2 linked regions of the Homo sapiens genome follow. The protein of the gene in region 2 purifies or fractionates together with the protein of the main gene of each other region. This does not show direct contact. Each region holds a gene or a part of one and is shown on either strand. Other genes may lie near its edges.

Evidence for each region.
Region 1: the proteins of PRKACB (region 2) and CDK5RAP2 purify together in Homo sapiens (affinity purification with mass spectrometry; 5 studies listed by BioGRID and IntAct, with this or other methods). This does not show direct contact.

Annotation. Positions count from the first base shown.
Region 1 is NC_000009.12:120,437,088-120,440,739, forward strand, and holds part of CDK5RAP2 (CDK5 regulatory subunit-associated protein 2), read right to left. Parts: intron 2,886-3,652; coding exon 2,312-2,885; intron 441-2,311; coding exon 208-440; intron 1-207. UniProt on the Homo sapiens protein: Potential regulator of CDK5 activity via its interaction with CDK5R1. Negative regulator of centriole disengagement (licensing) which maintains centriole engagement and cohesion. Involved in regulation of mitotic spindle orientation.
Region 2 is NC_000001.11:84,147,241-84,150,892, reverse strand, and holds part of PRKACB (cAMP-dependent protein kinase catalytic subunit beta), read right to left. Parts: intron 1-3,652. UniProt on the Homo sapiens protein: Mediates cAMP-dependent signaling triggered by receptor binding to GPCRs.

The DNA of each region.
Region 1 (3,652 bases), on a different chromosome or scaffold from region 2:
ACTCCTGGTTTGTAACAGTGCCGACCACAAGCCATGTGGAAGTGGTCACTGGGAGGAAGCAGCAGCCAGTGTGGTTCTGCTGTCACCTCATCAAGGCAGAGGGGTGAAAGATAACTAAGGCCAAGGAGTTAGCTCCTCCTGTGCCCCTCCAAGAAGTCCTGGGTCAATTACTGATGTCTTAAGACTCGCGTACCTCACCCTACCTACCGTTGAGAAATAGCTTTTCCAATTTCTCCAGCAGCTCAGCACATTGATTCAGCTGTTCCTGGAAACCCTCGGCCACACAGTAATCCACATCACTGGCCTGCAGCAACTCCTCAAATGCCTTAATCATGGTGTTCATGTGTTGACGGGAGATGACACAGATGCCATGGCCATCCTTAATCTGCTGCCGTTGAAGGGAGAGCTCCCTGGCTTGGGACTGAACTAATGAATCGTATCTGATAAAAGAGGGGAAAGAAAATACTTGGACCATTTTAGAATTGAATTTTTGTGACCTTAACACTAATTGGAAAAATGACAGAGTACAATTTTTAAAAGCCTGCAGCTGTACAAGTATATATACTTTTAGAAAAATTGAAACTGTACAAGGTCAGCTCTTCTTTGATTTCACACAGCCAACAAAGGCTGGAACAAAGATTCTTCTGCAACATTTTTAACCTTATAAAGCCCCCAATTAAAGTACAGATTGGCAAGAACTCAGGCAAACAATAAGTTTCCATACACTCTTCAAAAATACTATTCTGAATTGTAGAAACAAGTGCCCCAAGGGTCAGAGGATCTACCAAAAATTCTCATGAAGTGTGATAAAGAAAGTGTACCACAAAGAAAAAAAGACAGGACTCTCTCCTCCCGAACAAAACGTCACTGAATAATCATGATGCTAACTACCATTTACTGAGGGTCTAGGACCTGTCAGTAACTGAATTCAGTGCTTTATATGTTATCTGATCCTCTCAGTCTTCCAACAAATGTATAAATGTCCCCTTTTACAGAAGAATAAACTGACTGCAAAGCTAATTAAGTGGTAAAGATTTTGGATTCAAACACAATTCTCACTTTGAAGATCATTATGCAATATTACCTTTTTACCGTCATGTGCCACCTTTTCCTACGTGAGCCCATAAGAGAAAGACACTGAGAAGTAAACAGGTTAAGGGAAATGTGACTCATGTAAACTGGCCACAATAACCTTGCTCCAGAGAGTAGCTTGGCAAAGATGTTGACACTTCAGTTCAACATAATTTTCTCCTTCCTGGAAATGACAACACTACATGGGCTGGCAGTCACCTTCAACATAGAGTGTGCACATGCAGATTACATGATACCAGCATTAAAGGTGGGGGCCAGTATCATGTGAGTACTGGAGTAACATGGGTAAACATGGGTAACTCATGAGTAACATGAGTAAACATGGGTACTGGAGTGGGATGATGTGGGCTTGAACCCTGGCAATGGCTCTGACCAGCTCTGTGAATGTTCTCTGCCAAGTCACTGCAGCTACTTTGAGGCTCAGTTTCCCTACCTGTAATAACTAGTTTAAGAATACCTCCTTCTCAGGTGATTTTGAGGATTAGATAAGAAAAGTGCCTAACCAGGGGCCTGAGACAACAGCCTTTCAATAATTACAAGCTTCCTTCAATCTCACTGCTTGGGAAGTCTTGAAAAATTCATCCTGGCTCCTGACAATTCAGAACAATGTGTTTGACTCAAATTAGTGACAAATGAAGGTCAACTTTACTAATGATCCCATTTTTGCCATATCTCATGAAGCAAAACCGTATATATCTATGCCCATAAAGCATTATCTTCATGACCTAAGAATTCTTCTCTTTCAACACAAGCTTATTTCTCTAAGATGACCTTAAAGGGTAAAGATATGGAAAATATTTATATTCCTCCTACCTTGCCTAGACATCAGTTTTAGTTTCACAGCACAGCAAAAGCCAGTAACAGAGTCCAGGAGTACACACTGCAGTTCAGCAAAGGCACTATCACTCACCAAGTGACTGGTATGAAACCTTTACCCTGAGCCCCCAACTTGAGGAGGGCGAAATCTGCCCTGCAGATTTCCAGAGGACCCAAGACTCGTAACTGACGTTCAAGTGCGTGGTCGCTGTTCCTCTTCTTTGTGGCCTCACCTCTCCCTTCTCCACAGGACCTGGCTGCCTGAACCCCACCATCAAGCCTTCCCCAGAACACACTCTACCCATCACAGAGTAGTGTTCTCTTTTAGCTCATGGGCTCCCACCTAGTGGCAATACTGGGGGACTACAGGCTTAAACGGGGAGACGGCAGAGGTGGAACGTACCTGGGAGGTGAGAGATCTCTGAACTTATTCTGCAGATTATGGATCTCACTGAAAAGTTGCATGTTCAAATTCTGCTCCTTCTGCAGCTTGTATTCCTGTTCCTCCAGCTGCTGTTTGAGGTTCTCCAGCACCCTGCTGTCAATCATCTCTGGGGCCAGCGGACCGAGGATTTTCACGTGTTTCACGTATCGCACTTGGTGCAAACTTGAAAAGGTCATTTCTTCCCCATCAGAACCATTCTTGGGCTTGCTCAAGCCATCCTGGGCCCCTTCTGTCCCACACAAAACTGTAATTATGGCCTCACTGCACTGGGAGTGCTTTTGAAGCTGAAATATGAAATTCTGGTAGCCTTCCAGCTCAGTTTCCAAGTCATGGATTTTCTGTTTTAAGTATTCTGTCTCATTTGAGGTATTAATGCTCTCTGACTGATCAGTCCCCATCACACTGACTTTAGCAGAAGGCTGACTCTTGGAACTCAGGTAAGTAGCTACTGAAGTTGGGCTCAGAACATCTTCAGGATTTTCTTTGCATGATGGCAAGCTGGCAAGGTCATCAGGTGGGCAAATCTCAGAGTCTGAAAATCAAATACACTTATGTCAGTATCTCTTTTACTAAAATCCAAACCCTCTCTCCTTCCTCACAGCCCTAGCCAAGCCAAGACCACTGCAGTGACCTAACAAGCCTCCCTCAAAAAGGCCCTAGTATTTCCTAACACACTTCCCTCAAAAAGCCTCCAGTCTTTCCTAACAAGCCTCCCTCAAAAAGCCCTAGTCTTTCCCTCTTTACCCCTCAGTTGTCCTCTTCCTCAGAGTGACTGTTCTAAAAAGTAATTTTAACCATGATAAACCCACACACACACCCCCTAAAATTCATCGACATTCCCAGTATCTACATGAGACCTTCCATGATCTAGTTCCAGGCAACCTTTCCAGGAATATCTCTGGCACCACTCTGGAGATTTCCTACAAAATTAACCATGATTCCCTGCACATTGCGTGCTGTGTCATGCCTCCATGCTTTTGCATGGGCCGTGCCCTCTGCCTGGAACACCTTCAGCCCTCTATTCTACTCCTACCTAATGAACTCTTTCCATACCCAGATCTAATTTTCCTTCCTCTGCAAGCCCACTGCCAAACTATGCAAAAGTCACAACTCGCTGTGGTTCTGTAGCACCTTATGCATATTACTCAAGACAAATATACTATGTGCTGGGTGCTAAAGTAAAAATTTTAAGTGGCTTATTTATTGATTCACATAGCAATTCGTCATCTGAATGTAGCTCTCCCTCACCAGACTGCACGTTTCTTCACAGCAGAGATGTGGCCTTTCATTTTCACATTC
Region 2 (3,652 bases):
AGAATGGAGTTAAATTCTCAAATCCATATTTTTCACATTCAGATTTTTGTTATGGACTGGTCTATTTTGGCATTACTATAAAGAAATACCTAAGGCAGAATAATTTATAAAGAGATTTATTTTGGCTCATGGTTCTGCAGACTGTAGAAGAAGCATACTGCCAACATCTGCTTCTGATGAGGGCCTCAGGAAGCTTTCAATGATGGCAGAAGGCAAAGAGGGAGCAGGCATGTCACAGGCAAAGAGAGGGAGCAAGAGAGAGGGGGAAGTGCCATGTTTGTTTTAAAAAAACAACCAGTTATTGCATGAACTAATAAAGCAAGAACCAGCTCATTACCCATTGGGAGGACACCAAGCCATTCATGAGAGATCCTCCCCCATGACCCAAACGCCTCCCATTAGGCCCCACCTCCAACACTGGGGATCACATTCCAACATGAGATTTGGAGGGGACAAACATATAATGTTCTTACCATGACCCTGGTAGTTGTAACAGAAGGAAGTATAATGGGCCATTATATTTTTAATTTTTAAAAATATCAATATACTGTTTTGAGAATAAATTTTACAATGTTAAATGTGTTTTCTTTATTTTATTTTATTTTAATTTATTTTGAGATAGAGTCTCACTCTGTCACCCAGGCTGGACTGCAGTGGTGCAATCTCACCTCACTGCAGCCTCTGCTTCCTGGGGTCTAGTGATTCTCCTGCCTCAGCCTCCCAAGTAGCTGGGATTACAGGTGTGCGCCACCACACCTGTAGATGGAGCCTGGCTAATTTTTGCATTTTTAGTAGAGACAGGGTTTCACCATGTTGGCCAGGCTGTTGTTGAACTCCTGACTGCAAGGGATCTGCCCACCTCAGCCTCCCAAAGTGCTGGGATTACAGGCGTGAGCCACCACACCTGGCCTTAAATTTGTTTTTAAAAATATCATTAAGGATAGTAGCTATATAATTATTTTCACACATTCTCAAGTGCTATAATCTATGAAAAAATAATTATTATAATAATTAACTCCAAAAAGATATGCATGTTTATCTGGGATTCAATTAATTTAATGCAAAAGCCTTAAAATGGTCATAACTTCTTCAAATTAATCCTATAAAATATAAAAATAATCCTAAATATGTACAAATATTTAGTTATAAAGATGTTTATCATGGCATTTTTTAATAGCAAAACATTAAAAACAGCCTAGATGGCCAATGATTGGTTAAATAAATTATAGTATATCCTTATGATTTAATACAAAATAGTATTGTAGAACAACTCTTTATAAAGAAAAATGTTAACTAAACATTATGTTTTGAAAGATCCAAATTCTGGAGCTGGGCTGGGTGCAGTGGCTCAGGCCTGTATTCCCAGCACTTTGGGAGGCCAAGGCAGGCAGATCACTTGAGTTCAGGAGTTCAAGATCGACCTGGGCAACATGGTGAAACTCCACCTCTACCAAAAATACAAAAAATTAGCCGGGTATGGTGGCACATGCCTATAGTCCCAGCTACTTGGGAAACTGAGATGGGAGGATCGCTTGAGCCTGGGAGGCAGAGGCTGCAGCGAGTCGAAATCCCACCACTGCACTCCAGCCTGGGTGACACGGTAAGACTCTGTTTAAAAAAAAAAAATTGGAGCTGGTAGAAATTTGTGTGTCTATACACAAAATAGAGTATATATACAAAAATTAACAGTCATTACCTTTTGGCAGAATTATGTATACTTTTTTTTACCTTTTTGTTTTTTCCTGTAGTTTCAAAATTTTCTCCAGTGAAGATATACATTTGGAAATCATATTAAAATGTTATTAGGGAAAAAGTGCTTCTCACACCTTAATGTGCATATAAATCAGCTGGGAAATCTTGTTAAAATGCTGATTCTGACTAAGTAGGTCTAGGTGGGACCTGGGATTCTTCCTCCTAACAAGCTCCCAGGAGATGCTAATAATGCTGGACAGGGACCACACTTTGAGTAGCAAGCTGTCTTCTAACTCTGTCATATGGCTATTTTTGCAAAGCACAAGCAAGTAAAAGCTTCTCGTTATGTTAGTACAGTTGATATAGTACTTGCATTGCTAAATGGCTCATGGAATGATTTCCTGATTTCAACATCATTTAATATCCCAACTATTTTAGTTTTACTATAAAGTCTGCTTGTTACTTAAATTTTTATTGGAAATCATGATAAAAATACACAGGTAACACTGAAAATTGGTATTTACTAGAGCCAGGTCAGCATTTGACTGCTTTTGGTTAATGGCCATGGGCTTTTAAAATAAATTGCAAAGATCACAATAGCACAAATTAGTAAGAAGCTCATTTGTGTAATACTGCAGTGATGTTTAATGTTAATTTAACAAATAACTCAAGATTTATTGAAAATTATGCTAGTAATACTGAAATAAACTGACAAGTTATTTGCCTTCAAGGAGTTCAAAATCAAACATGAGAGACAGATACATAAGGATTAATAGTAATGCATTTTAAATATTATAAACTATAATATATATAGTATACAAACTATACCATATAAATACTATAAATAAACCACAATAAAAGTTAAGTATAAGATGATATAAGAACATAAGGAAGAGCACAGACTCTAAGAAGGATGAAGGATAGATGAATAGGATACATTGGTGGTTTTGTTACAGAGATGATACCTGAGAGGATGCCTAAAGTATGGGCAAATCTCACCACTGGTAGAAGTGAAGAAAGAGAATTCCAGACAGAAGCAGCAACTTGAACAAGCACTGTTGTAAAAGGAATCCATTATCTGACTATTCATTGCCATGCTGACTGTCACGTCAAAAGCGTTAGTTCTAATTAAATGCCCAGCAAAAACGGAAGATGTATAGTAGCTATACACATTTCTCTGTAGTAAAGTAAGTTAACTTATCCTGTATTATGCTAGTTAAAATCTTTAGGCTCTTTTAACAAAGGTTGCATTATATTATTTTCCACTTTAAAAAACTGCATTGGCTCCCCACTAATACAGCGTAGTACAAAATTCTGGATGTCTAATAGAAAACTTTTAAAGTTTAAATCCAGAACCTAATTTTCTAGACAGTATCTTACTAAACCTTTTAAGTAAGTTCTAAATGTTCATATTTTCAAATACTTGTGTATGTTATTTTCTTAAAATAACCTTCTTCTCTAGGTCTCAAAATTCTATTCATTCTTTAATATTTTTGAAGTCCCCCATTTTCTCTTTAGTAACAACTTTTTTCTTACACTTAGCTTCCACAGTAAGCTTAGACATTTTAAAGCAACTATTTCATTATGCCTTGAATATTATATTATGTTTGCTCTTCTTTTTGGGGGTAAGAACTAGATCTTATTTTTCCTGGAAACTTGCTTACTTACTATGATATAGTAAATACTCAAAAAAGTTTTACCAAATGAGTAGAAATTGACTATTATCAAGAAGCTTATGGAATAGTTTCAAGTGGAAAAAGCTGATAAAAAGACAAAGGTGGAAAGTCTTTTAGCTGAGAAGTTAAAATGATACAGATTCAATGGGCTAACAAATAGGAGGTAAACTGTCTGAGAGATTGTATAAAATTTGCAAAGGTAAAACTGACTGAAGTGGTCTACTGTAACCACTTTATGATTTTGCTAGAGGACATCCATAATCAAAACTGCTCATTTGTTTAAT